Homo sapiens: one gene and its partner. The protein of the gene in region 1 interacts with the protein of each later gene in a pairwise test. Each region holds a gene or a part of one and is shown in the gene's direction. Other genes may lie near its edges. The genes, in order: KHK and GLP1R.

Region 1 (3,813 bases):
CTGTTGTGCCTCCCAGAGGAGCACATCCGAGTGGGGACCCAGTCCTTCCTGGGTGTCTCAGCCCCACCTGTCCTAGGGTCTCTGTGCTTGACAGGCAGTTGGGGACTCTTGGGAGCCGCCACCTGGAGCTCAGCCAGACCCCTGGGACGTGTCCTTTTTTTTATTTTTTGAGTTGGAGTTTTGCTCTTGTTGCCCAGGCTGGAGTGCAATGGTGCGATCTTGGCTCACTGCAACCTCCGCCTCCAGAGTTCAAGCAATTCTCCTGCCTCAGCATCCCGAGTAGCTGGGATTACAGGCATGTGCCACCACACCCAACTAATTTTGTACTTTCAGTAGAGATGGGGTTTCTCCATGTTGGTCAGGATGGTCTCGAACTCCCGACGTCAGGCGATCCGCCTGCCTCAGCCTCCCAAAGTGCTGGGATTACAGGCGTGAGCCACCGCGCCCAGCCTTTAGCTGAGCATTTCTGCACAGGAAATATCAGTGTGACTTTGAAGGGTTTCCCCAGAGTAAAATTCTATATCCTTTCTTAGAAACCTCAATGCTTGGGCCTAACAACTTTTAGTTTTAAAATACGGAGTAATTAGCAATGGCTTTGGGGTCAGGAAATTGGGTTCCCACATCAGCTTTGTCCTTAACTATTGATCAAGTCAGATCCCTCGAGATTCCTCCTTTTTTTTCATATCTTTTCGTAAAAATTTCTGTAAAGCTGTAAAGCTCAGCTTGAAAATCTTTTTTTTCTTTTTTCTTTCTTTTTTTTTTTTTTTTTTTGGAGACAAAGTCTTACTCTGTCACCCAGGCTGGAGTGCAGTGGCATGATCTTGGCTCACTGCAACCTCTGCCTCCCGGGTTCAAAAGATTCTCCTGCCTCAGCCTCCCGAGTAGCAGGGATTACAGGCACCTGCCACCACACCCGGCTCATTTTTGTATTTTTAGTAGAGACAGGGTTTCAACATCTTGGCCAGGCTGGTCTTGAACTCCTGACCTCGTGATCCACCCGCCTCAGCCTCCCAAAGTGCTGAGATTATGGGCGTGAGCCACTGCGCCCGGCCAGCTTGAAAATCTTTGACCAGCTGGGTGCAGTGGCTCATACCTATAATCCCAGCACTTTGGGAGGCCAAGGCAGGAGGATCGCTTGAGCCGAGGAGTTCGGGACCAGCCTGGGCAACATAAGAAGATGCCATCTCTACGAAAAAATTTTTTAAATTAGCGGGGCATGGTGATGCACACCTATAATCCCAGCTACTTGGGAGACTAAGGTGGGAGGATCAGTTGAGCTGGGGAAGTTGAGGCTGCAGTGAACCATGATCATGCCATTGCACTCCAGCCTGGGTGACAGAGTGACTCTGTCTCAAAAAAACAAAAAAATTACTATCCTTTGTCATTGTTGTTATTGTTGTTTTTGAGACAGGATCTCACTCTGCCACCCAGGCTGGAGTGCAGTATCATGGCTCACCCCAGCCTAAACCTCCCGGGCTCATACGCTCCCCCAACTTCAGCCTCCTGAGTAGCTGGGACCACGGGTATGCACCACCATACCCAGCTAATTTTTAATTTTTTTTTTTTTTTTAGAGACAAGAGCTCCCTTTGGTTGCCCAGGCTGGTCTCGAACTTCTGGGCTCAAGTGATCCTCCTGCTTTGGCCTCCCAAAGTGCTGGGATTATAGGCATAAGCCACTGTGCCTGTCCTACTATCATTTTTTTTCTAATGACATCGTGCTCCCCTTTTCCCAAAACTGAAGTTTCGCGTACAAATATGCTTTGGCCTAAAAATTCTGGTTCGGTTTTTTCTCTTAATTCGTGGTTCTTTGGTACTGTTCCTTTTATTGTAAACTGCCACAATTATTATTATTATTGGAACTGGCACAATAGAAATAACACCACCATTCTTACCTCAAAGGTAATAACATTCATTAATGATTTCTCATTTGGGCTCCAGTAACACTGTGAGGGGATCAGTGCGTTGACCCTCTATGTGGAAGTTATCATTTTTGCTGCTGATGACAATGAAGCCCTTCACGTGTGTCTTGTTAGTTTCCTTTTGGTTGGTTTTTAGTAAAGATGGAGAAGTGCTCCCTGCTGCCACTTCTTAAACGACCAACGTCCAGGTTTGCTGTCCTGTCTTACTCGTTTGATTTTATAGCTCTGCAGTTTCTATTGAAGTAGACACTCCTAACACAGGGGTAGGTGTAAATGTGATACCTTTGGGAAGAGGCACTTAGTCCCCGAGGTCCTTGGAGTTGCTCCAGCTCTCAAGGAGGAGGCCAAAGGTGCAGCGTCTGGAGCAGCTCTGACTGGGGTGAAAGGTGAGGAGGAGATGACCTGGAGTTAGTGGGTCTCTCGAATAGTGATGGACCCAAGTGAGTGGTTTCCTGTTGCCCTAGGAACAGATGGAAATATTGAAAGGAACTGCTGTCAGCTTGAATTTAGCCTGGGCTGGGGAGGTAGACACCGCTCTCAGCCAAGCTCCTTCCCTTGGCCGGCCTCGGCTGCCCCGGGTACAAAGTGAGACGTCGGCCTAGATGCTTTCTGAGAGGAGTCCCCAGCTGTTACATTCTGTAGGCCCCTATACAGGAGACTGTGCTTGGGATCAGCCTGCTGGGGCTGCAGGGACCCTCCCTGTGCTTTGCAGGTGTTTGTCCCAGAGATGGCAGCGCGGAGGCAACGCGTCCAACTCCTGCACCGTTCTCTCCCTGCTCGGAGCCCCCTGTGCCTTCATGGGCTCAATGGCTCCTGGCCATGTTGCTGAGTAAGTCCAGGAGGGAGAGCCCACTGGGGAAGGCCTGCCTGCATCATTGTGGGAGAAGAAGGATGTATCCACCCTGGGTGGATGGGGGATTAGAAATGGGTTGTGTCCAGCAGAAACGCGGGGAGGGGGCATGGCGGAGCACCAGACGCCCAGCCCTGCCTTGGCGTGGCCTCTCTGCGGTTCGGGGGCTGATGCTGCCCCTGTGAAGCTTTCCTTGCCACAGCTTGTTTCCTGGACACTTCTGGAGCCTGCTTCAGCCTCTTCCTTTCTCCTTCCTTGCTTCCTGCAGACTCTGCGGTGGATGTGCCTTTGCCTTATCTTAAGTCCCTTATCCTGGCCATGCTTGAGGCAGAAGGCAGTTAGGGACACGTGGTACCCATCCTCCCCCAGGTCCAGGCCCACAGTTTCTGTCCCAGTTGAGAGGCAGGGCTGGTGCTCATGTCCCTGTTGTTCACTGAAGCAGTGAGAGTACCCTGTTCAAGGACACCCTGAAGCCACATGCTAAAGCTGGGCTCAGAACCCACACCTCCCAGTTCCCCGGCTGTCAGGGCTATAGCCCTAAATGGCTCATGCACGCCCTCCATGTTGGCTGCTGCAGGGACCTCAGAGCCCTTTGACCCCTGGCGCTGCCGACTCAGCAAGCACTTATCGGGAGGTGAGGCCCACACTTTGCACACTGTGGGCACGGGGGCAGGCTGCCAGGTTGCTGGCCTGTGAAGGGCAGCCCTTTGAACCCTGGTTTGAAGGGGGCTGCTGGCAGAGTCCAACCACCTGAGCTACAGCCAAACTCCCTGCCTTGATGAACTGGCAGGAAGAGAATAGAGGGAGAGAATCTGCCCTGTGAGATGGGACAGGACGGCTCAGAACCAAGGGCTGGTGACTCATTAAACCTCTTTAATAGCTCCTTTCCTCTGAGCTAGAGGCAGGACTGTGGCTCTGGCTTAGGATGGTCGACTCTCCTTTACATAGCAATCAGGCCAATGGGTGGTTTATTCAGAATTCTCCCCATGTGCTCGACAAACATTTAGAGAGCACCTACCATGTCCCAGGCACTGGGGTGCGAAA
Region 2 (3,813 bases), on another chromosome or scaffold:
CATCTTTGCCTTTGTGATGGACGAGCACGCCCGGGGGACCCTGCGCTTCATCAAGCTGTTTACAGAGCTCTCCTTCACCTCCTTCCAGGTGACTTCATGCTTGGGGACACTTGCTTGTAAAGTCCTAGAGTGGGGGTGGGACAGACACCAGCCTGCATCATGCAGATGGAAAAGGTGGGAAGACTGGGACCTGGAGGGGTGATCCCTGCCCAAAGTCACCTAGTTGGAGCAGAGCCAGAACTAGTATCCCCAGGTGTCCCAATACCTGGGCCAGTCTTCTCTGTAAGCACATGGGACAAGAAGCCTTCCTGGATGTAGCTCTGGGTACCAGCCTGGCATTGCAGCTGCCATCTACTTGGTGGCGAGCACCCTGCCAGGTGCTTTACATGCATTGTGCATTTACTCCTCACAGAACCCAGGAGATGTGCAGGGTTAGCCTCACTTTACAGAGGAGACTCAGAGGTGTTAAAACCAGAGTTACGGTGTCACAGTTTCAAAGAAAAGAACTGATCCTCTCCACTAGCATTAGATGATGCTAAGGGGGTGTAAAAATACAAAAAAACTGGTCCCTGCCTGCCCCTCAAGAGTGTCATGAGATGCCTGCACACATGTGGGCTCATGTGTGTGTATTTACATACATGTGCAGACATACAGAACACAATTCTGGAGCCCTGGGTCTCCTTCATGAACAGATGGGGCTGGAGTGGGGAATATTCTCCATGATCAGAGTCATTGTACTTCACTGGATCAGGCCTCCTCAAGGAGAGGTTGGATGTAGGATCTCTACAGCTTCTGGGCAGCTTCTGAGCAGGGTCTCCTGGACCCCATGGCACATGCCTGGGAGACCCATGGGGAGAGGCTAGCTGGGGCCTGTAGCCAGGCCTAGTCGCAGAGGTGCAACCCTGGTGTTCCTTCAGAAAGGAAATGAGAGGGAAGCCACTGCCCCATTCCTGGATCTGCCTGGGCCGCTGGATTTGGGGAGGGGGTTGTTGAGGATGGAGTCCCAAAGTGCTTCCGACCAGGGCCAGTCTGCAGGGCACCTCCCTCCTGCTTCCTCCCTCTTGATGTGACTCTTGTTTCCAGGGGCTGATGGTGGCCATATTATACTGCTTTGTCAACAATGAGGTAAGCTCTGAGGAGGGACGGTGGGGACCCTGGTGGGTGGGTACCATCAGCCCGTCTGGAGTAGTACAATGGGGACTCCCATCAATCTTGCCAGCTGAAACCCCCTACTCACCTCACTGAGGCACTAGGGTTGAGAAGCCATCTTGTCCACAGATTTGGTTTTCTGTGCATGGTCTCTCTCACACATGAACACACACACACAAGTACATGTACAGGTATACCCTAATGGCATGTGACCCTAAGGAAGACCCAGACTCATGTTAAGGGGATCCTGAATGACCCTCTTTGCTTGGTGGTAGTGACTGTCACTTACAAAGTGATTCAACACACACATACCCAAGCCACATGCTTGGGGCTTTAATAATCACTATCTCATTTAATTATGACCCCCACATCCCTCAAAAAAAAACCCTGCTAAAATTCTTATTTCATATTCCCATTTTTTATATATACATGAAAACACTGAAGATCAGAAAGAGTCAGGAACCTGCCCTAGGTTTGGAAATAGTGGCACACATCGCTTCTTAGCCTTTTGGCTAAGGTGAAGTGTGGAAATAGTGGCATGGCAGAGCCAGGATTCAAATTAATTCTGCATTAAAGCAGAAAGTACCCCATTCTTCATACACACAGGCAAGAGCCCTGGCTCACTGTGGGGAAGGGGGTGGCTTTCTGGTGCTAGGATGGGAGAAGGGGGTTCTCGCTGGCCCCACACACTCTCCTGAAAATGTCTGCAGGACAGCAGGCCTCCCTCCCATCCCTGAGATGGTCAGCTCCTGGGAGGAGGGCATGGCTGTGTTCATGGGCACCTGGAAAAGGCCCCTTCCACCAAGGTACTCAGCTTTGGAATCCCAGAGCTCAGGGATGTTGGAGTCAGCACATTAATAGGCTTGTCTTTTTCTATGGGTGTGGGGGATGCAGAAAGGACAGTGGGTGGGGACCTGGGTGTTTCAAGGAGCTATGAGATGGCTCAAAGAAGCAATGTGATGTAGCAGAAAAGATGCAAGGATGCAGGCTTTGGCATCTTATTTGGTCTGATCTGGGCCCCATCACTTAATGAGCTGTGTGACTTTGCCTAAGTTACCTGCCCACTCTGAAACTTAGTTTGCTCATTTACAAAGTGGGGATAATCCTGTGAGGATTAAGAAAGTCTGAAAAAGGTGCGAAAGGGGAACAGAGAACAAGTCCTTCCTTCAAGGTGGGATGCTGAAGGCCCATCCTAGCTCCTCACAGGTGCTGCTTGGCATGGAGAAACACACACCATTATCTCCAGATGCTCAGTAAGCAATCACTATTAGATCAGTATTCAGTGATTCCCAGAGACAGGGGCCTAAGGAATTTCAGAGGATGCCGTGCAGAGAAAATGAGGCTGGGTGAAAGGGAAGGGAGGGGAATGTTCCCTTGTCCCTGAGGCCTCCCCCTGCTTCTGCTGAACTGGCTACCTGTGGGAAGTGTGGCCCTCAGATCTCTAAATGGGAGGGAAACCAAGGTCTCTTAAGGGTTTACTGCATATAAGGTGCTCAGAGTGTCTCATTACATCCAATGCTGTGCAGCAGATGGTATCCCCAATTCACAGCTAAGAACGTTAAGCCTCAGCAAAATGAAATGAGTAGCCTAATTCAATAGACAGAAGATGGTAGAGCTAGTGGGCTGTGGCGGGGGCAAGATCCCACTTAATGCCTCAGGGAAGCAGGTGCTGGGGAGGTGAAGGCAGCGCCAGGCAAAGAGTGGCCCATAAATGGGATTCTGGCTGCTCCTGGGACAGGTCTTAGAGGACCCAGCGGCTCCGTTTGGAGGGTAGGGCAGGGAACAGGCTCGTGACCCACAGGAGGCAGTCCTGGTCCTCCTCCACTGCCATATCCTCAAAATGAGTTTCTTTAAAACTGATGCAAACGAGGAAGTGCAAAAACCTAAGCTCTGTGGGTGGCCTCCCCTCCAGGAATGCTCTCAGCCAGCTGGGTGATGCGCTACCCAGCCCTGAGCTCTGCTGCTTTCCATTCCAGCCCAGTGGTGATGGGGGCAAGACAGGGTGGCATGTATCCTGTGTGGGGATGAGGAGCAGAGGCCTGTAGGGAGAGACTGAGGCTCCCTGCTGCCACCTTGTCATCTTGACCCCCCCACGTCCCCGTTTCTCACTTCTCTATCCTCTGACACTGTCACTGCAGCCCTACTAGCAGACACGTGTGCTTGGCTTCCCCCCCGCCATTGTGAACAGTCTCCCCTGACCCCTGGCTCAGCTGCCTCTCCAGATTCCATCCTTCCAAGCCTAGTCATCTCATCACCTCCCTCCTCATGCACCACCTATGGCTGGCCCACCTTTGTAAGGGGATAGTACTTCTTTGCCCTTGGAAAAAAACTTGATCCTGAATCACCAGGGTTGCACCTCTCTGACCAGGCCTGGCTACAGACCCCAGCTAGCATCTCCCCGTGGATCTTCCAGGCTAGTGCCACGGGGTCCAGGAGACCCTGCTCAGAGAACGGGAGAACCTGTCTCCCTTCAGAGCACCAGCCAGTTCCTTTAAACCCACCCTGAGACTCCTCATGCCCTGGCTGCTCCAGGCACAAGGACAGATACATCATTGTCACTGGGCCACAAAAGACACATGTGGCTCTGGGGCTAAGGCCTCTGTCCACAAGAGCTGTTCTGCAGACCCAGGGTTGCCATGGCAATGCCAGGTACTTGTGACCTGA

What was found.
Region 2: the proteins of KHK (region 1) and GLP1R interact in a protein complementation assay, tested with the Homo sapiens proteins (one large-scale study listed by BioGRID).

Annotation. Positions count from the first base shown.
Region 1 is NC_000002.12:27,089,701-27,093,513, forward strand, and holds part of KHK (ketohexokinase), read left to right. Parts: intron 1-2,631; coding exon 2,632-2,748; intron 2,749-3,813. UniProt on the Homo sapiens protein: Catalyzes the phosphorylation of the ketose sugar fructose to fructose-1-phosphate.
Region 2 is NC_000006.12:39,079,615-39,083,427, forward strand, and holds part of GLP1R (glucagon-like peptide 1 receptor precursor), read left to right. Parts: coding exon 1-88; intron 89-1,083; coding exon 1,084-1,125; intron 1,126-3,813.